Homo sapiens: one gene and its partners. The protein of the gene in region 2 interacts with the protein of the main gene of each other region in a biochemical or structural test. Each region holds a gene or a part of one and is shown on either strand. Other genes may lie near its edges. The genes, in order: NOS1AP, PTPRN and CAPN2.

Region 1 (7,106 bases), on a different chromosome or scaffold from region 2:
ACAAAAGCATACGGTAAGGGGAGTGGTGGAACTTCTTTGGGCAAAGGCTGACTTTGAGGACCAGGTCCTAACTCCCAGATCTTTGTAATTGATGCTGCACCCTGGCACATTCAAACACCATGTTAGTCAAGACCTAAGCAGAGGTGGAAGCACGAGCTTTTCTGTCCTACATGCTCCTGGTAAGAGCCTTCTCTGGCTGTTTTCCACATCCCTGCAGAGCAGTGTCTATGCAACTGCACAATCACTGGGATTTCAGGGTTAAATCCACATCGCAGTCTTCCCTTGTTTTGGAAAAATGCAGGCTGGAAAATGCAAATGTATTATTGTTGCCTTGTCGGGTACCCTTGGAAAATGAGTGCAGCTCTTTCTCTCCCAAGGGCTGGCAGTTTTTCAGAATCAACATTGGATTGAGTGTTCCTTTGGAAGTATGCCACTCATTTTCAGGGTTCTGCAGAGATTGAAAGGTGTGGGGTTAGGATCGAAGGGCATCTGGGTGGCAGAGGTTCTGTGCACTTAAAAACCCATGCATTTAGTTATCAAGTGCAATCCCAGATTTTTTTCACCTGCAGTACCTCATTTAATTCTCACTACTTCCCTAGGAGATGGGTCTCCTTATGTCTATTTTATAAACGAGGACATAGGCTCAGGGAGGTTGTTGCGTGCCTTAGTGCTCACAGTTGTGTATGACAAAGCCAAGATTTAAGCCTGGGGCTTTGACTTCAGACTCCCAAATCCAGTGCCTTTTCATTCAATAATTTTTATGGAATATTCACTCTATGTTGGCCACGGGTTTGAGTCACAGCTCTCTAGTGGAGTGTTCTCAGGTTGCTGGCCTCTAGAACTCTGGTACAGGAAATTATTCAAACATTTATTTATTTATTTATTTATTTTGAGATGGAGTTTTGCTCTTGTTGCCCAGGCTGGAGTGCAATGGCATGATCTCAGCTCATCACAACCTCCAACTCCCAGGTTCGAGTGATTCTCCTGCCTCAGCCTCCTGGGTAGCTGGGATAACAGGCATGCGCCACCATGCCCAGCTAATTTTGTATTTTTTGTAGAGATGGGGCTTTCTCCGTTTTGGTCAGGCTGGCCTCGAACTCCCGACTTCAGGTGATCTGCCTGCCCCAGCCTCCCAAATGTTGGGATTACAGGCGTGAACCACTGCGCCCGGCTCAAACTTTTAATGCTTGGCTGTTTCCAGATTTCCCTTTGGGCTGAGAGCTGCTTGCCAGGGAAACCTGTTGTCTGTGTTCAGAGTGGGTACCTGGCTTACTGACTGATGCTGGTGGGTGGGTAAATCTCACATGCCCTGAGAGCCTGTGGCTCCTTAGTAACTGCCTCCTGATCTCCCAGTATGTCTTCCTGGTGGCCAGTGCCATCAACTGACTGTCTCTCCTCTCTTGGTGAGAAAGAGACTTTTAATGCTATGGGTACAAAGGATAATAAGAGTATTAATAATAGTTATATCTTATATCTGTAGGTGATTTTTGATTTGCATTGGACTTCTACATACAAAGACTTTTCCTCTTATAGAGACAGGCACAGGCACATTAGTGTTATCTCGATTTTTCAGACCAAAAAATGGAGATCAGAGAGATTAATTTGTCCAGAGTTGCAAATTGGTGTATCAGTTAATGATATTTATTGAGCACTTACTATGTGCCATACATTATTCTAGCCTCTGCCTCACTTAATCCTCACACTCCAGGGCTTTTGACTCCAGGTCCATGGTTCTTTCACCTCCTCCAAGGCTCACTCAAACCTGAAGTATTAATAGTTGCTCCCTTTGTAGTCCTAACACTCATTGCCTAGATTGTTCCCTTATATCTGCGTGTATGATACAGATGGTCAGAACTGGAAAGCACCATGGCTCATCTAGTACAACCCCCTCACCCCATCATTGTACAGATGAGGAAATTGAAGTTTGGAGGGGAAGTCATGGACCCAAGGTCACATAGTCAGATAATAACAGAACCAGGACTTATCCCTGGTTCCCTGGCTTCAAACTGGTTTCAGTTATCCATCACTTCAAAACAAACGACCTCAAGACTCAGTAGCTTGAAACAATAACTGTTTAATTTGCTTATGAATCATGGCTCAGGAATTCAGGCAGGGCTTGGCTGGGCTGTTCTTCTGTTGCTTATGGCGTTGACTGGATCACTCACTTTGCTGCATTCATCCACAGCTAGGCTGGAATGTTCAAGAAGGCTTCACTCATATGACTGTGCCTTGGTCGTCCTTCATGTGACTATTCTCTTCACTGGCTGGCTTGGATTTCCTCACAGCATGGTGGCCCTTTTGTTTGGCAGCTGGTTTTCAGTAGGGGGTGTTCCAAGCAGGAAAGCAGAAGCTCTTAAGGTTGGGTCTTTCTGAGTTACATAGGGTCACTTCTGCCACATCCTGTTGGTCAAAACAGGCTATTAGGGAAGAGACATAAGCCCTACTTCTTGATGGGGGAATGTCAAGTTCACATTGCAAGATTGCACGTGGGATGAGAGATATTGCTGAAGCTGTTTACCACACAAAATTCTGTTTTTTCCTCTCTGCATATATCTTCTCTGGTGATATGGAATGTTCTTTGAGGACCTTGCCTCATGCCTTGGTGTATCTCCCCCTCCCAAGCCTCAACATCAGGTACAAACATAGTCACAATGAAAAATTGTCAAGTGGAAGAAATGACCAATTGTGGAAAGTCTGAAAGCAGTAAATATCATTGCTGAGTGATTTTGTGGCTTGGGAGCATGTGGTCAGATTGAAGCTGAATTCTCTGGCTATATTTCCTTCCTTGCTACCTGGCTTCATTGGTTGATGGTTTCCCTGATGTGGATTTTAGAGATTCCAGTAACCTCAGCAGGATATCTGTGGATGCCTCTTAAACATACGGCCATGAAGGCCTCCAGATGAATGACATTTGGTCACCGTAAATGGGGTATCCCTGACTCGTCTGAGCCTGCATGGCATGGTACAGAGCTCTCAGAACCATTCCACTATACACTGGGTGTTTATGTCCCCTTTCTCCCTTCTCTCCACCCAGACTAAGGGTCCTGTCTTCCAGGGTTCTGGAACAGTAGCAATTCAGATTAAGGGTCTGATGTATTTTCTGATGTCATCATTAAGGAGGAGACGTAGTTCACTTTCTTATGCTTTTCCAGATGCTTTTAAAAACACTTATCTTCTGCCCAGACTACTTTTTTTTTTGGTGGGGGGCAGTGAGTTCCAAAGATACAGTACTGCTCTGAAATGACACCTATTTTATTTGTCCTTACATTGCTCTCAGATGTCCCAGTATGTTCCTCCACACCTGGTATCTTGGGATTTGATGGACAAATCTATTTCCACGTTAGCTGTACATTTCATGATTTTATGGCTTTCAGTCGTAGTTCCTTTGCCCACAATGTCCCAGTCCTTTTTAGTGGTCAAAATCATGCAGCCACATCTAATGATGACCTTTGCCAGTTATCTATACTAATCAGGCTTGACTCACTGTTTACTATTGCCTACTCATAATGCAGCTACTCCCAAGACTCAAACTTTCAGAATGCTTTCGCTGGCTATAATTACCTGCCTTCCCTTTATACCTTTGTTGCCTTGAGGATGCTCTTAGCTCCTCAGTGACCTTTTTGCTGCCCTTGTCCTGCTGTCTACCCTCCCCAGCAGCCTGGGACCATGCCCATGGCCGTTCCTTCCTGCCTTTTTGCCCTACCCTGCAAACTTGATCTTTGCTACTTTTCTTCTTCCTTTCTGTTTTTGGAAAAGACCATTTATATATTTTCTTTGGAGAATGTCTATTCTGATCCTTTGCTCATTTAAAAGTTGGATTGGCTTTTTACTATTGAGTTCCCTCCTTTCTAATAGTTTTATTGAGATGTAGTTCACATACCATACAATTCACTAATTTAAAATGTATAATTTAGTGATTTTTAAGATATTACAGATCTGTACTACCAGCACCACAGTCAATTTTAGAACATTTTCATCACATTAAAAAGAAACACTAGGCTGGGCGCGGTGGCTCACTGCTGTAATCCCAGCATTTTGGGAGGCCAAGGCGGGTGGATCACTTGAGGTCAGGAGTTCAAGACTAGCCTGGCCATCATGGTGAAACCCCATCTCTACTAAAAATACAAAATTAGCTGGGCATGATGGCACACACCTGTAATCCTTACCCCCTGCGTCTTCCCAGACCTGAACAGCCACTAATCTACTTGCTGTCTCTAGATTTGCCTATTCGGGACATTTCATATTTATGGAATTATACAATATGTGGTCTTTTGTGTCTGACTTCTTTGCCTTAGTGTTGTGTTTCAGGGTTCATCTATAATTTATCAGTACTTAATTCCTTTATATGGCTGGATAATATATCATTGTATGGATATACCACATTTGGTTTGTTCATTCATCAGCTGAGGCACATTTAGGTTGTTTCCATTTTTGCCTCTTAAAAATAATGCTATAAACATTCATGTACAAGTTTTTGTGCAGGCATGTTTTTATTTTTATTTTTTAAAATTTATCTTGGGTAAAAGTAAAATGGCTGGGTCCCATGGTAACCATGTGTGACCATTTGTGGGACTTCCAATGTGGCTGCATCGTTTTACCTTTCCACCAGCAGTGTGTTCATATCTTCACCAATGCTTGTTGTCTGACTTTTTGATTCTAGCCATCCTCCTGGGTGTGAAGTGGGATTTCATCATAGTTTTGATTTGCATTTCCCTTTTGAACAACATAGAATGTCTCCTCATTCCCTAGGAAGCAGACTCAGAGAAAAAAAAAAAGACCATCTTTTCATGTGTTTTTTGGCCATTTATATATTTTCTTTGGAGAAATGTCTATTCTGATCCTTTGCCCATTTAAAAGTTGGATTGGCTTTTTTACTATTGAGTTGTAAGAGTTCTTTATATATTCTGGATTCAAATCCCTTATATAGATTTGCAATATTTTTACCCATTCTGTGGTCTTTTCACTTTCTTGGTATTGTCCTTTGAAACACAAAGTTTTAAATTTTGGTGAAGTCCAATTTTTTTTCTTTTTCCCTCATTTTGAGATCCATCTGCCTTCCATGTCCTGTTAGTCTGCCCTTGTCCTCTTAATTATGCCCTTCACTCCCCACCCCCACCCTGGCACAGTTACATCTCCTGGGCACTGGCTTACTCCTCCCTGCCTAAGAGTATGCTATGGCCTTCCCTGTATGAAATACCTCTTCTTTCCACCTCTTTCTTTAATTAACATGTTGTCTTTCTCCTCCTTTCACAGCTAAGCCTTGTGAGAGAGTACTCCACCCTCTGCAGTATCTCAGTCTTCATTCAGTCCCTGGCCACTTCCTTCCAACTTCTGTCCTGGCTGCTGTACTGAAATTGCTCTGCTGCCCCCTTCTCTATCCTCATCCTTTTTGACTTTTCTTCCTGAGCTGCCTGTCCTAGTCCTCTGTGGAATGCCTCATTGGGCTCTCTGTGCCTGCTTGCAGTCAGCCAGCCCCTTGCCCCTGCCCATACCTCCTTCTTTTGTGGCTGTTCTACCTCCTCCCTTTGCCCTCTACTGTGAGTGCTCCATTCCCTCTCCTTTGGATTCTATCTACTCCCACTCTTCTGTTATGCAGGCTGCTGGCTCTCTACTTCAGTCCAGACTCCACATCTTTATGCGCAGCTTCCTGCTGGTCATCTGTACCTGAATGTGTTGCTGTCCCTATCACTCAACAAGCTGGAAATCAAATTTCTCTTCTGACTTCATTGTCTTTTAACGACCCCACCATCCTCTTGGGCACATGGGCCTGACACTTTAAAGTACCCCTTGTATTCTTTGATTTAACAGCCAACTCAAATTTGCTGTTTACTGGGTACCTATGATGTCCAGGCTCTACTCTCCTGTACCCCACATCAAGTTAGGTGCCAAATCCTCTTGAATGTTCCCAGTGACATCCATCCACCCACCCTGGCTGGTCCATCACCCGTTCAGATGCTCCACCCCCTCCCCTGTTATCAGGGCCATCAATAACCTTCTGAAGGCCTCCAGTGTCCCACTTGTTCTCTGATCCCCCTCATCCCTTAAACTTTTGCCCTATCAATTTTCTTGAAATGGTTATCCTCCCACTCAAAAACATGAAAAGTTTCTGTACCTACTATATTAGAACCAAAATTCTTAGTATGATATTCAAGGCTGTTTTTGAACAATTCCCTTTAATCACCCTGGGCTTCAACCCAACTGTAGTACCCACCATTCCCTTAACCCTCACTGCAGTTTCCCACCCCGTTCACAAGTCACTCTGTGAAGTGGATGTTACCAGTCCCACCTGCTTTGTATTAGAGCTGCTTGTCCTGTCCAATTTTCATCCCTACATTGTCATTGTCAGGGTCCATGTCACTCTGCCCCCGTGTCTTCCACAGCCCTGAGTACAGTGCCTTGCACATAGAAAATGTATTTTGAATGAAAGAGATGATCCCTATAAGATGGCCAGGACCCTCCTGGGTCACCCAATGGTGAGAGGTGCCTTAATTGACTCTCCACTCCTCCCCACCATTTCTCTTGCTTTAGTCTAGTAACTTCCGGTTCCCAGTGGCTTGAGGGACCCCCCAGCATGGCCTCTTTCTGATACCCCCAATCTCACACAGTGCTGATTCCTTCCAATGAAAATACCAAGTAAGCATTTTTTTTTCCTGAATTAAATAAAATTCCACTGATGGATGTCCAGTGGAATTAGAATCTGAATATAGAACATATGGCCAATTTCAGGAGTAGGTAATTGTCATTTCTCAATTGTCATTTATGTAAGAAACATTTTCAACTTGTTTTCTCATTAATGAATTGATGTCTTTTTTTTTTCCTAATTCATGGTTTATTTTCTGTAATTTGCTACTTTGCAATTTTTATGACATGAATTTGGTTGGTAGCATAGCATGGCATGAATTCAGGAGCCAAACTGTGTTTGGGTTCAAATCCTGGCTCTATCCCTCACTTGCTACTTGACTTTGTGTGAGTTATGTAACATCTTTCCTTTAGCGTTCTCATTTGTAAAAAGAGGATACAAATATCTCATACTTCGTAGGGTTAATGGGAGGATTGAATCAGTAGTACCTGTAAATGGCCTAGCACCGTGCATGACACAGAGTTGG
Region 2 (7,505 bases):
AGCAGTTTATTAGAGAAGTGAAGAAACAAAAGAATGGCACTCCATAGACAGAGCAACCTATTGTGGTGGTTTTTAGTGGTCCCCCTCACCAACTCTTGACTCCATCTATTCTAGTCTCACTACAGCAGCAAAAGTGATGCTTGTCAAGTGTAAGTCAGATCATGTGCCCCCAAGCTCCAAATCTTGTAATAGTTTCCTTCTTTACTCAGAGTAAAGCTAATGTCCATACATTCCCCTATGAGGCCCTAAAGTGATCCACATCCCTTCCCCCATTACCTACCTGACCTCACCTTCTACTCTTCCTCTCCATCAGTCTTCTACAGTCCCCTGGCCTCCATGGTGCTCTTCAGAATTGTGCTTTTGTCCTAACTGTTTGGTCTGCCTGAAATACTCTTCCCCTAGATAATCTTCTGACAAACTCCCCCACCTCCTTAAAAAGTCTGTTCAGATTTCATAGTCTCAATAATGTCCACCTTAACCACCTGATTTCCTCATTTAATACTGTAGCTTTCTACCTCACCATTTTGATCACTTTATCCTGCTATAATATTATATGCTATTTATCATCTTCTAAGACACTATGTATTTTCTAACTTTTATAGCGTGTTTCCTCCCCTTATCCCCCAAACAGAAACTCCAGTAAGCAGAGATCTTTGTTTTATTCCCGATACATTCCAAATACCTAAAACTATGCCTGCTACATAGTAAGTACTCAATAAATACTTGTTGAATGAGGAATTGGGTGAGTGGAATATTATCCTGGCTGAGGATTCCAGAGTTCTTGGCTCTGTAGCACTCAGACAATGCCAGTGAGAGGAACTGGTCCTAAGAAGATGGAAGCTGGCCTTTTCCAGTGACTTCTTCTTAGAAGGCTCCTCTGGGCTTCTCCAGAGAGTCCAAATGTGAATAGCCCATCTCTAGGGTTCCACCTCTTACTCTAGCAAGATATGGGAAGGTGAGGCTCCAGCAGTGGGGGTGATAGGAATATTCCTTGAAGAGAAATCTTCTTCCCCACCCATAACTAACCAAGTTCCAATCTCTCTCCTCCAGTGCACCCAGACCTTACCTTGGGACATGAGTTGTCGGAGCACACCTTGTAAGCGTTGGAGAACTGGGGAGGTGACTTGCAAAAGGGGCCGGGCCTGCCCCACTCCCACCTGGCACTGCCCAAACAAGCCATCTAAGGGCACAAAAGTGGTGTCAGCAGGGGGCTTGAATAAGAGGCCTTCCAAAGTCCAGGTTGCAAATGGACTGTACTCTCTTCACTTTCTCCCCTACCTCTCCTCCTCCAGGCAAGTCTTCCTTCTTCTCAAGCCCAGTAGCCCTCTTCCTTTCTGGGCCTTCTCTCCCCTTCTTGTTTTTTATTGCCCCTCTCCCCCCGATCTTGTGAGTTCTATGCTTGGGCCTCACTCACCCTGAATACAGACTTCCAGGTGAGAGCAGAGCCTGCGGTCAAATAGACAGCCTGTAGAGGAAAAGGTGAGCAGAGGCTCAGACACCCACTCACAGAGAATGGGCAGATGGGTGGACAGGCTGGGAACGGGAGAAGCAGATGCAATTTATTCTTTCATTCTAAAGAAGGCCTTAAGCTGGGAGGAGAGTAGGAATCAGGCCTGAATTTCTTAAAAGGAAGCATGGGATCTTGTTTTGGATTTTAAGAATTTGTGAGTCTGTATCCTTAAAAGCCTCTGTTTGCTTAACTGAGTGATAGGGAAGAAACCTTCCAGGTGCAGGGAGAGAGATTCATAGAATTACTGCAGGAGAGGTTTTGGCCAAATTCTGAAAGAGGAATTTCCTTCCCAAATATGGAAAAGCATCCTATAATGGCCTGGAACTCAGAAGAGGTTCTAGCACACTTCCCCCGGTCGGGGGAAAGAGGGCATGGGTGGGGCTGGGGAGGGTGTCTCTTAGGCATCTCTCCTCGCGCTGTCCCGAGCCGCTGGCGCTGTCCGCGGTGCTGAAGCTCTGAGTCTGGCGCCGCCAAGGGCTGGCCTTGGAGGCGGTTACCAGAGAGGAAGGGGTCACAGAGCGAGGACTCTCCACTAGACCTGAGCCCTCTGTTGTATTCTGCCAACCCACAGCGTCACAGGAAGTACTCTGCCTCTCGGGCCTCCAAGCCCGGGTGGGGAAAGAGGGCGCCAGGCGGCGAGGCTGCGCCCCTTCCCCCACGCGCCACCCTCCCATCCCCCACCCCCTGTCCGTGAGTCAGCGCTGACTGTCTCTGTCCGCACAGATGTGAGTCAGCACCAGGCCTGGCTGTGGGGAGGGGGACAAGAGAGGACCCTCCCCTCTTCATCCTCTTCTGCCCCCTCCCCGTGCTGTCCCCCGTTACAGGAGATCAGATCGCTGCAATCAGCTTCTCTAGGCTTACGGAGAAACCCTGGCCTCTCTCTCTGCCCAGCTGGGACTCTATGTCTGCGGCCCAGGCTTCCACTGCCCAGAGATCACCGTTCCCTCATTCTCCCCGCCACCTCCCCTTCCCATTCCTCAGCGCCTGTCACCACCTCCCAGGCGCCTCGGAGCAAGTGGCTTCTCCTGTGGTCTCGCAGCCGGTCTCTAAGTCCCTCTGCCCACATGCACCCCGTGTCCTTCTCCCGAACCTGCAATTTTCCCCAGAGCCCAATTCTCTTAGGTCCCGCCCCCGTATTCCCAGCCCCACCTCCAGGCCTACGCCCCTTTCCTCCGAGACGCCCTCTCACCTTCCTCATCTCGCATGCCTCCCCCAACCCATATTCTCCCCGAGCTTCATGACATTTCACCCTCACCCCCACCGAGTTTCGCTCCAGGCCCCAAGCTGCTCCCCGCCCCCCACCACCCGCCAGCCCAAGTTTCCTCCTGACCGTGGGCACTAACGGCGCTGCAGCCCCCCGGGCGGCTGCTCAGCAGCAGGAGGCAGAGGAGCAGCCGGAGACCCCCGGATCCCCCGAGACCCCCAGGCCGCCGCGGGCGCCGCATCTTTCCGAGCTCCGGGCGCTCGCTCCCGGGCCGGAGCCGCAGCGACGCTGGCGGGAGCCTGCCAGAGGGGCTGAGGCGGGGCTTGCCGCTCCCCACCTCCCTACGAGGCGGGGTCTACATGCCCCTCTCGCTGCAACGCGGCCAACCGCAGGCGGGTGCTGACGACACCTCCACCCCCGGCTCGTAAGCTAATTTGCGTCACATATGGCGTAAGAGCCCTGTCGGAGCGGGGGACCTACCTAGCCCATCCCTCCTCCATCAAATAGTAGGCGCCTCGCTAGAATTCCCACTTGGCCCCATCCCTGTAGCCCTCTTCTAGGATCACCTCTGTCTCCCCGCCCCAGGGTGGGTGAAAAGGGTTAAGTTAAGTGGGGGGCCAGGAAAGATAGGTGGGTCCAGAACGATAAACCCGAAGACAAGAAGCAGAAAAGTGGGTAGAATAAGTACTCTTACTCATTGTCATTGAAGATACTGTTCTCTTCCTTAAGAAAAAATGGTTAGGCATGCCTAGATTCCAGTTCTAGCAGGGCATCTACTAAGGGTATGACCTTGGGCACCTTGTTTAACTTGTCTGCGTCCAAGTTTCCTGATCTGCAAAGTGGAGGTGTTAATAGTTACTACCCGCCTCACACAGTGATTGTGAAGATTTTGTTCGTTACACTAATATGGATCACTTAGAAGGATGACTGGACTGGTGCATACTACATGCTCCATACATATTAGCTGTCATCATTAGCTTTTATTTATTTTTTATTGAGATGGAGTCTTGCTCTGTTGGCCAGGCTGGATACTGGCGTGATCTTGGCTCACTGCAATGTCCACCTTCTGGGTTCAAGCCATTCTCCTGCCTCAGCCTCCCTAGTAGCTGGAATTACAGGCGCACAGCACCTTGCCCGGCTAATTTTTGCATTTTTATTGGAGATGGGATTTCACCTTGTTGGCCAGGATGGTCTTGAACTCTTGACCTCAGGTGATCCAACGGCCTTCGCCTCCCAAAATGCTGGGATTACAGGTGTGAGCTACCGGGCCTGGCCTCATCATTAGCTTTGACTCTCCTTTCTCTCCGTCTGTGCCACCTCGAGGCTATCAATCATTTTATGGTTTCTCCCTGCAAAATACATCTCCCATCAGTCCACTTCTGTCCATCCTCACTACCTGAACTGAAACACTGTGCTCTTTCACCACGACCACTGCAGCAATCAGCTAGTAACTGCTCTTTTGCTTCCACTCTAGTCATCCAATAAGTAGGGGAGTGAGCTTCTTAAGTTCAGATTTGATCTCCTTCCTCTCTTGCTTTCCAGTAAAATAAAATAAAATTTAAAAAGGACAGAAATGCATAATGAATACTTACATACTCATCATCCATACTTAATGGTTATTGATGTTTTACAATATTTGCTTCTTTTTAGTATTTAAACATGAATGATAGACATCATGACATTTCTCTTCTAAATATTTCATTATGCATCTCCAAGAAATAAGGACATTTTCCTGCATAACCTAAGTGCTGTTATGACACCTAAAAAAATTTACAATAATTCCTTAATATAATTTTTTAAATTTTTTTTTTTATTTTTTTGAGAAGGAGTCTTGCGCTCTTTTGCCCAGGCCAGACTGCAGTGGCACTATCTTGGCTCACTGCAAGCTCCCCCTCCCAGGTTCACGCCATTCTCCTGCCTCAGCCTCCTGAGTAGCTGGGATTACAGGTGCCTGCCACTGCACCCGGCTAATTTTTTGTATTTTTAGTAGAGACGGGGTTTCACCGTGTTAGCCAAGATGGTCTCGATCTCCTGACCTCGTGATGCACCCACCTCGGCCTCCCAAAGTGCTAGGATCACAGGCGTGAGCCACCGCGCCCGGGCATTCCTTAATATAATTTAATGCTCAGTTCATATTCAAATTTCTCAGATTGTTTCCCCAAAAATGCCTTTTCTTTTCAGGTGTTTTGTTCAAAATAACAGTCAATTAAGAACAACCACGGCCTTTGTTATGTTTCTTAATCTCTGTAAATTAGCATAGACACCATATCCTCTCTCCCCTCCCCCATTTTTGACATTGTCATGTTGATAGACCAGGTCAATTTTTCTTTAGAACTCTTCTTCTGGGTTTATCTGATTTTTTTCTTCATGTTGTATTTCCCTGTATTTCTCCAGTGTATAACCTGTATATCACCTGTATTTCCTGTAAACTAGAAGTTATATATGAAGTATTGACTGTATCAAATTAAAGAATTTTTAAAGCAAAATGCCTCTCATTGCATCATTTCAGGAAGTACATGATGTCTGACTGTTCTATTAGTGATGTTAAAATTGATCACTGGTTTAAGGTAGAGACAGCCAGATCTCTGTATGTAAAGCTGTGGTTTTCTAATGTGACCAGCATGTAATTCTTGGATGATACTTTGGCACTGTGAGACTATCTAGTTCCTCATCAACTTTTCACCTAATGGTTTCACTATTCACTGGTGATCCATCCTTGACTAAATGATTTCATTAGAGGTTGCAAAATGGTGATTTTTATAATCCTATCATTCAATTCACGTTTATCGCTTATTTTACTTTGTAAAGAAGGGCTTTCTCTCATCAACTGGGTTTAGTTTACACTAAAATGCAATTCCAACTGGAAAGGTAACATATATTCTCAGCTTTTTCTCTTTACCCTTCTGCAAAATAATGAGTCTGTGTAGTGTAGTGACCTCTAACAGTGACTAATACATTTTTAAACATTTATTTATTTATTTAGAGTCAGGGTCTCACTCTATCACCCAGTCTGGAGTGCAGTGACAAGATCATAGCTCACTGCAGCCTTCAACTCCTGGGCTCAAGCAATCCTTCTGCCCCAGCCTCCTGAGCAGCTACCATTGTGAGCAACCATGCCTGGCTAATTTTTTTTTTTTTTTTTGTAGAGGCCAAGCACAATGGCTCATGCCTGTGATCCCAGCACTTTGGAAGGCCGAGGCAGAAGGATCACGTGAGCCCAGGAGATTGAGACCAGCCCGGGCAACATGACGAATCCTTGTCTCTACAAAAAATACAAAAATTAGCTGGGCGTGGTAACACGTACCTGTAGTCCCAGCCAGGTGTGGTGGCTCATGCCTGTAATCCCAGCTACTCGGGAGGCTGAGGCAGCTGAATTGCTTGACCCTGAGAGGTGGGGGTTGCAGTGAGCCGAGATTGCGCTATTGCACTCCAGCCTGGGTAATAGAGAGAGACTCCGTATCAAAAAAAAAAATTTTTTTTAATCCATTTTTCTGCTGATGGACATTTGGGTTGTTTCAGGTTTGGTAGTATTATGCATAATGCTATTGAGAGGTGACAGCATGCTGGCAGCCCTCACAGCCCTCGCTCGCTCTCGGCGCCTCCTCGGCCTTGGCGCCCACTCTGGCCGAGCTTGAGGAGCCCTTCAGCCCGCCGCTGCACTGTGGCAGCCCCTTCCCCGGCTGGCCAAGGCCGGAGCCGGCTCCCTCAGATTGCGGGGAGGTGTGGAGGGAGAGGCGCGGGCGGGAACCGGGGCTGCGCGTGGCACTTGCGGGCTAGCGCGAGTTCCGGGTGGGCTTGGGCTCGGCGGGCCCCGCACTCGGAGCGGCCGGCCAGCCCCGCCGGCCCCGGGCAGTGAGGGGCTTAGCACCTGGGTCAGCAGCTGCTGTGCTCGACTTCTCGCCGGGCCTTAGCTGCCTCCCCGCGGGGCAGGGCTCGGGACCTGCAGCCCACCAGGCCTGAGTCTCCCCCTCCGCTGTAGGCTCCTGCACGGCCCTAGCCTCTCTGACGAGCGCCGCCCCCTTCTTCACGGCGCCCGGTCCCATCGACCACCCAAAGGCTGAGGAGTGCGGGCACATGGCTCGGGACTGGCAGGCAGCTCCACCTGCGGCCCCGGTGTGGGATCCACTGGGTGAAGCCAGCTGGCCTCCTGAGTCTGGTGGGGACTTGGAGAACTTTTATGTCTAGCTAATGGATTGTAAATACACCAATTGGCACTCTGTATCTAGCACAAGGTTTGTAAACACACCAATCAGCACCCTGTGTCTAGCTCAGGGTTTGTGAATGCACCAATCGACACTCTGTATCTAGCTAATCTGGTGGGGAGGTGGAGAACTTTCGTGTCTAGCTCAGGGATTGTAAATGCACCAATCAGCACCCTGTCAAAATGGACCAATCAGCTCTCTGTAAAACAGACCAATCAGCTCTCTCTAAAATGGACCAATCATCAGGATATGGGTGGGGCCAGATAAAGAATAAAAGCAGGCTGCCCCACCGGCAGTAGCGACTCACTCGGGTCCCCTTCCACGTGGGGGAGGATTTGTTTTTTTGCTCTTTGTATTAAGTTCCTGCTGTTCAGTTGTGGGGTCCACACTGCTTTCATGAGCTGTAACACTCACGATGATGGTCTGCAGCTTCGCTCCTGAAGCCAGCGAGACCACAAACCCACTGGGAGGAACGAGCAAGTCTAGACGCGCCACCTTAAGAGCTGTAACACTCACTGCGAAGGTCTGCAGTTTCACTCTTGAGCTAGCGAGACCAAGAACCCACCGGAAGGAAGAAACTCGGAACACA
Region 3 (7,106 bases), on a different chromosome or scaffold from region 2:
GGTCACAGGGAGGCAGCGGGTCCCACAAGGACTTTCCAGAAACCTTGCCCAGAGCTTAGACCAGTGGGATCTAGAGCCTGGGCAACTTCAGCAGGGCCCCAGGGGTGGCCAGGACTCATCCTTCATGACCACCAGCCCCTGCCCGGGCTTCACGACGCTCCCTGAGCTCCAGCAGTCTAAGCCTCTCGCTTTTTTGGTGACCTGAGCACCCCGGGACATGGGCCAGACGTACCTCCTCTGGAACCTGCAAAATAAAGGAGATGCAATTCAGATGCCGGAAAAGCAGTGTAAGAAAATGCATCACTGTGCTCTTCTCTTCCGCTGCCCCCGTTTTCTCTGTAGCATTAGCAATATCAACTAATTCAACCGAGTAACTGTTTTCCAAGGAACTCAAAGCCTCTCCAACACTGAAGAAAATCCTCTTATGTTGATAAGCCCTCACCTCCCTTCCTAACTTAGAGTATAAATCTCAGGCATGGAGATGTGAAGAGACTTGTCTAAGGTGGCAAAGCCCATATCGGCCTCCCACGCAGGGAAAGAGGGCCAGGCGGGCCCTGTTGGAGGAGGCAGCAGGCGAGGTGAAATACACCTGGGGCTAGGAGCCAGCAGTGCCGGCCTCTGTCAGCCAGGTCCAGTGGTCCGGTCTGCATTTCCTTGAGCAAGTCCCCTCTCCTCTCTGGCCTCAGTTTTCTTGTCTCAAAAATAGGACCCAGTGATCCCCAAGGTCCGTCCCAACTCTGAAAGCCCGTGGCTGCATTTCCAAGCCCATAAGCCGGTGGGAGGGAAGCTGTGTATCACAATTCCATTTGCATTGTCCTTGGATCGATTCTGTCCCAGATCCGAAGTCCTCAGCTCCTGTTTCAGAGACGGAGGGGTTTAGGCCTATGTGCATTTTTACAACTGATGGTATTTGCCCAGCTGCCTTTCTCAGGTGGGTGAGCAGGTAGAAGTCAGTGTTCCATGGGTGGCAACGTTGCCAGTGGTGAGCACAGAGCCTCCTCTCCTGACACCTCGTCTGGATTCTCCCAGGGGTGTGCTGGGAAACTGGCTCTTGGGAGAGGGTGGAAGCTCTGATTTGTACTATTTGCCACTTTCCATGGTGTAAACAGGTCCCTGCCAGGGCCATTTTTCAGGCTGCTGAAGGACCTCAGCAGACATGGGTCAGAGAAAAGAGATGGGCTTTGGGAGCCGGGAGGAGCCAGCTCCAGCCCATCAAACCGAAATGCATCCCCAGTCAGTGCCCTAAAGCCTTCCTTTCATCCCTCTCCTCGCATGGCTACCTGCAGCCCACGAAAGCTCTTTCTTGTTTTGCAGAAGGGAGTGGGGAGAGCCCAGGGGCCCAGCGTGTTGGGTGAGTTCTCAGTGCCCCAGCCCCAGCCTGAGGGCGGAGAGGAGACTGCAATGCGGCTGCCCTCTGGCTGTGGCTCAGAGTGAAAGGAAAACACGCATACAGCAGGAGTCTGTGTAGGGATCTGGGCTCCAGCCATCAGAGCCCTGGGGGGAGCATCATGACCAATGTTCCCCTGTCCCCAAGCTCTCCACCATCCAGGCCAATGACTTTGCCGAGCTCTGAGCAGCTGCACCCATGGACTCAGTCCTGCCCTCACAGTATTGCCTGATGTGGCCCAGTATATTCTGTTCTTTGAAGATGGGTAGGCTGACCAGAATGCCAGGCCTGGAGGATGTGAGAAGGGATGTGGAGGCCATTTGAGAGTGGAACTCCCTGCAGGCTGGCTGTGGGGGGCCCGTGAAGGGCTTAGAAGGCCCCACAACCCAGAGCCACTGCAGGGGCCTCCCTACGGGGGCTACTCCTGAGCCTGGCCAGGCTGGTAGTTTTGTTTTTCCTTGGCCAAGCTCCCGGTCTGGGATCCCATCCCCAGTTCTGCCTCTGGGGTCAGCTTTCCATGCAGGGGCTGAGATGAACACATGGGGAAGGGAGGGCAGGAGCCCCTGCGCTCTGCACCTCATAGATGCCAAAGCCGATGGTGTGCATGTCCTCGCCCATCTTCCTCTGCCGCCGTCGGTGCTTCTGAATGAGCCCCACCAGGAAGGTGCAGCCGCTCTCCCCATCCTCCTCGTCCTCATCCTCCTCCTCCAGCTTGATCAGGTACTGAGGGTTCATCCAGAATGTGTCTGCAGCCAGAAAGGGGCAGAGGAGCCCAGCCCTGAGCAGGAATGCATGGGGGTGGGGGGTGGCCCTGGTCTCAGGCTTGGAGGCTTCTGAGAGGGATGGAGATAAAGGGAGATGGTGGGAGGTGGTGGGAGATGGTAAGAGGTGGTGGGGGATGGTGGGAGATGGCAGAGTATGGCAGAAGATGGTGGGAGACAGCGGGAGATGTCAGAAAATGGCGGGAGATGGTGGGAGTTGGCAAGAGGCGGTGGGAGGCTGTGGGAGACAGTGGGAGATGGTGGGAGATGGCAGAGGATGGCAGAAGATGGTCAGAGACGGCAGGCGATGTTGGGAGAGGCTAGGAGGTGGGAGACACCAGGGTTGGAGTGTGGACTGCAGGCTTTGTTAGGCTGGAGACGGGTGACGGTAGCTGTGGAGAGAGGATGACCTGCACTTGTCTGAATCTAACAGGAACCTAAATTAGAAACTTTCTCTTGCAGTTCTCTCTCTGGCTCCAGGCTGGCTTGTCTTGGGGACTGGTCTGTCACTCTGGAACGCAGGGTGGTTAGAGCTGTGGCTTCCCCTCATGGTACCTTCTCTTCACTGGGCTCTGATGGGGAGCCTGGGGCGGGGCTCGGCTGGCCTGGGGGACTCCGGGATCTGCTCCCTGCACTTGCCGGTCGCCGCCCCCTCGGTGAGCCCGGAGGCCAAGAACATCCTGTGTATAATTCCAGACTCTTTCTTGTTCTGCGTCCCTTGTCCTCTCAGGCCTATTCCCTTGCCCTGCTCCTGATGTCTCTGCCCTCTTTACTTCCAAAACCTATTTATTTAAAAAATCTAAGATTCATTCATGTTTAAGGGGAATTATGCTAATTGCCTTTCCATACCTAATGGGATAAAACCCTAACTGTGAAATTACAGGCACCATCTTGTGTAGGGGTTGGCAGCTATGGCTCCGAAGGCCGCTGCCTGTTTTTGTAAATAACGTTTTATTGGAACGTAGCCACGGCCATTCGCTTAAGTATGGCTGCCTTTGGGTTATAGCAATAGAGTTGTTGTTATAGAGACTGAGTGGCCCACAAAGCCAAAATTATTTACTATCTGACCCTTTAGAGGGAGTTTTCCGACTCCTGATCTAGTGGGTAGGAGGGGTCCCTTGTGGGGGGCAGAGGGCCTTCCCAGCGCCTCTGGGACTGCCACTTGGTGGCTGCATACTTGAGGTGAAGGAGTCCGAGCCCCAGAACTGTAGGCCAGCTAGCCGCAGTCTGACTACTTGCTCTGTGGCCCTGGTATGCGACTTAGAGGCTCAGCTTCCTCATCTGTCACAGAGAATCACTATGTGACCATGATCTGCTGCCACTGTACTTACACAGTGACTCCTCAGTCAGGGGGCCTGGGTTCAAATCCCAGCACGCTCTGTGGCCTTCAGCAAGTCACTAGCCTCTCCAAGCCTCAGTTTCCTCATCTTAGAGATGGAGGTGATAAGAAAGTGCCTGCCTCAGAAGTTTGTTGGGAAGGTTAGATAGAATGTTATGCAGGCTGAATATCCCTTATCTGAAATTCCTGGGGCCAGAAGTGTTTCCTATTTTGGATTTTTTTGGATTTTGGAATATTTGTATATACATAACATATCTTAGGGATGGAACTCAAGTCTAATGACAAAACTCATTTCTGTTTCATATATAATTTATACACATAGGCTGAAGGTAATTCTATAGCATATTTAAAATAATTTTGTGCATGAAACAAAGTTTTGACTGTGTTTTGACTGCGACCTGTCACCTGAGGTCAAGTGTCGAATTTTCCACCTGTGGTATCATGTTGGGGCTGAAAAAGTTTTGGATTTTGGAGCATTTCAGATTTCACATTTTCAGATTATGGATCCTCACCCTGTGTACAAAACACTTAGGATAGTTCCAAGCACTGAAGGTGTGCCCCATAATTGGCAGATGTCATCATGTTCAGACAACTGCTGACGGACTAAGCCATGAAGGCAGAAGAATCAAGGGGCTCAACAAAGGCTGGACCAGAGGAGAAATCTTCACCCCATCTGGGCAGCGCCCAGTCAACATTTGCTGATTGAAGTGAGTATGGGGCAACAAACAGGGCCTGATATGTGGAGGGCTCCCTGGGTGCCGGGACAAGGTTCCCTTGTAGGCTCGGCTGCCTGGGTGTGGGGTGCATAGAGCAGCTCATGGCCGTGAAGTGGGATTGAGCACTGCTTCCGTGAGCATGGCGGAAGGTCAGGCTGAAGGTCATGATGGGCGCTGGGGAATCTAGGGCCTGGAGAGGACATCACAGAAACAGTGGCTCTTGGGTTTGTCCTGGGTAGGGCAGGAGGTAAGGGATTGAGAAAGAGAGCTCGGGGAGAAAAGGCTCAGGGAAAAGAAAAGGCTCAGGGAGAAAGAAGACAGAGAGGGTTCCAGTGAGCAGGAGCTGCCTCCTGGGGCTGCTAGGCTGGGGTGTGGTACACAGGGTGGGGTAAGGGGAGCTTTGGCCTTTGGTGGCCCCGCATTGCAACAGCCCTTATATGCAACAGCCCTTACTCGGGTAGTTCCTGCAACCTCCCGCGGTGGAGCCCCGCCTCCAGTTCCCATCCATTTTGGTGAGTTTCCACTTCTTGTAGGTATCGCTGGTGAGAGTGTCTGGGGTCAGGTTACAGATCTCCAGGCGGGAATAGTGCCTCAGGAAGTCACTGAAAGACATCCTGGCAAAAGCAGAGACAATCATCACAGGTGATAAGAAGACACACTGGTAAGCCTTGACTTTCCACCAACACCAGACCAGGAGCCACCCAAAGCCAGGCAGAGCAGCTCATTAGAACTGAGTGGATGGGCACCAGGTTCAGAATCAGAAGGCCCAGATTCCAGTCCTGGCGCTGCAACTTTCTAGCTGGGTGACTTTGAGCAGGTTACTTAAACTTCTCTGAAGCTCAGAACTCTCACCTGCAAAAATGGGAGCCGTGCCCATCAAATGTGACAATATATGGGCCCCATTTGATAAAGAGCATGTTGTGTCCAGGTGCAGGTGGTTATAGAGTGGCGCAGACACACAGACATGTGGGTCCATTGCTGCTCACTAAGGGACCAGTTTCTTAAGGGGCTGGGATGAGTCTCCGGAACCTGGGGGAGAAAGGCCCCATCTTTCCCTTGTTTCCTGGGATCTGAACATTACCAAAGGAATTCCTCTTAGCCTTTTTCTGAAGCTGCTCAGCTTATAAACCCCATTGTCAAGATGGACCGTTGAAGGGGCTTAAGAATTTCTTTATTCAGGCTCTTATAGTGAACTTAAAATAACAAAACCAGGATCCCACACGCTTGTGTCCTCGACATGGTAAACTCACTTTGGCCGACACTCTTTCTAATTAGCAGTTTTCTAGTAAAGAACATTGGGGCAGACAGAGCTTTCCCTGAAGCCTCCACTAATCTTACCAGAATTCTCCATCTTCATGCCGTCTGGTCAGCCTTTCCCTCTCCTCTGGGTCTATAGTGTTCCAGCTTGGGCAGCTGGAAAACAAAGTAAAGAGAGAGGCGTTAGTGTACGATGATTTCTCCCCAAAGGCCCCAGAGTTGAGGAAGAGGGACATCTGCTCTCACCTCTGAGGGCTCAGGCTCCAGAAAGGGGGAAAGTAGCCCACATCTGGCTAACAGCTGCATTTTAATACTCTTACAGCACTTTAAAGAGTATAGAACACTATACAGATGCAAACCAGGGAGCAAAGTGAGCGGGTGAGTTGTGCTGGAAGACAGTGGCAAGGAAGAGTCCAGAAAATGAACATAGTTCATTAGAGGGAGATGGAGTAGCTCAGAGCAGTTGCCCAATTGAGATGGGCCTGGCAGCTCTTTTAGAGACAACTGAAGATCTGATGAGGAGCCTCCGGCTGAGGCCTGGGAAGCCTCAGCAGGTGTCTCTCTGTCCACGGAGCAGAAGGACCTGGCCCTGTACACAGGGGCAGTGCACAGGGTAAACTAACCACTGCCTGAGCTTTGGCTGGAATTACACACAGGCCTCTGTACTGCCCACCTCTCCAACCTGAGGCAGAGCAAGTAGGCTGAGGTTGCCACAGCAGATGTACAAACAAGTGTTTACCCCAAATAGTTGAGGGTTCAACATGCCTACCAGTAAGCCCTGGAAATCAACAGAGGGATGTTTCTCTGGCCTTTGGTACAAAGTTCACATCCCTGTAATAGAAGTGCCTGGGGGAAGGTGGGGTGTATTTTTTTCCCTGAAAGCCCCATAGAAGGGTGGATTTGAGCTAGGGAAGGGGTGAACCTGGAGGCAGTGGCAGGAATGAACTTCACACGAGCAGCTTGGGGCCTGGAAGAAGGCACTCAGGCTGCTGGAGGAGTGTCCTGGTTAAAAGACCCTTTGAGGGGCCCCTGTCCACGGGTCCCTGTCCACGTGGCCTGGGCTCTCCTGGCTATATTTCTCAGAATAATGCACATGTCTTCTTCTCTCGCCCTCTTCCCAGAGCCTCCCAGCACAATGCACCCCCGCCTGGGGCCCCGAGGCCTGCGCCCTCCTCACTTGTCATTCCACCGCCCTGTCCACTCCACTTCTCCCCAGGGATTTCGGATGCGGATCAGTTTCTGTAGGCTTCCGTTACTTTCAACCTGCAGGATTAGATAAAAGGGAGGAGTAAGAGGTTGAGTTCAAGTCAGGGCTATGAAGGCTTGGGCCTCCAACCCCCTTCCGCATGAGCCAGGAGGTATGGGGCTGAGGACGGTGGGGAGGATTTGGGGGTTGAGTCCATGTATGAGGGAGGATCACAAGAGCTAGAGGGGGCTTGGCACCCAGACCTCTCACTGCTGCCTAGCTTTGGAAAATGAGATTTAAAGCTCCCAGGATCCGGCTCTCGAGGATGGGGCTGTTGGTGCTTCATCTCTGAACTTCAGCTTAACTGACAGGATGCGCTTTTGGTAAAGGAGCTCAGAGAAGCTTTACCATTTGTTGAAAGATCACTGGTGATAACAGGCACATGCAGTGAGTGAATCTG

What was found.
Region 1: the proteins of PTPRN (region 2) and NOS1AP form a complex in vitro, tested with the Homo sapiens proteins (one study listed by IntAct).
Region 3: of the proteins of PTPRN (region 2) and CAPN2, one has a biochemical effect on the other in vitro, tested with the Homo sapiens proteins (one study listed by BioGRID).

Annotation. Positions count from the first base shown.
Region 1 is NC_000001.11:162,072,587-162,079,692, forward strand, and holds part of NOS1AP (carboxyl-terminal PDZ ligand of neuronal nitric oxide synthase protein), read left to right. Parts: intron 1-7,106. UniProt on the Homo sapiens protein: Adapter protein involved in neuronal nitric-oxide (NO) synthesis regulation via its association with nNOS/NOS1. The complex formed with NOS1 and synapsins is necessary for specific NO and synapsin functions at a presynaptic level.
Region 2 is NC_000002.12:219,306,378-219,313,882, forward strand, and holds the start of PTPRN (receptor-type tyrosine-protein phosphatase-like N isoform 1 precursor), read right to left. Parts: upstream 3,025-7,505; 5' UTR 2,956-3,024; coding exon 2,841-2,955; intron 2,594-2,840; exon of another isoform or gene 2,505-2,593; intron 1,466-2,504; coding exon 1,415-1,465; intron 1,181-1,414; coding exon 1,067-1,180; intron 1-1,066. UniProt on the Homo sapiens protein: Plays a role in vesicle-mediated secretory processes. Required for normal accumulation of secretory vesicles in hippocampus, pituitary and pancreatic islets.
Region 3 is NC_000001.11:223,750,507-223,757,612, reverse strand, and holds part of CAPN2 (calpain-2 catalytic subunit), read right to left. Parts: intron 6,724-7,106; coding exon 6,638-6,723; intron 5,617-6,637; coding exon 5,542-5,616; intron 4,818-5,541; coding exon 4,657-4,817; intron 2,134-4,656; coding exon 1,964-2,133; intron 245-1,963; coding exon 233-244; intron 1-232. UniProt on the Homo sapiens protein: Calcium-regulated non-lysosomal thiol-protease which catalyzes limited proteolysis of substrates involved in cytoskeletal remodeling and signal transduction. Proteolytically cleaves MYOC at 'Arg-226'.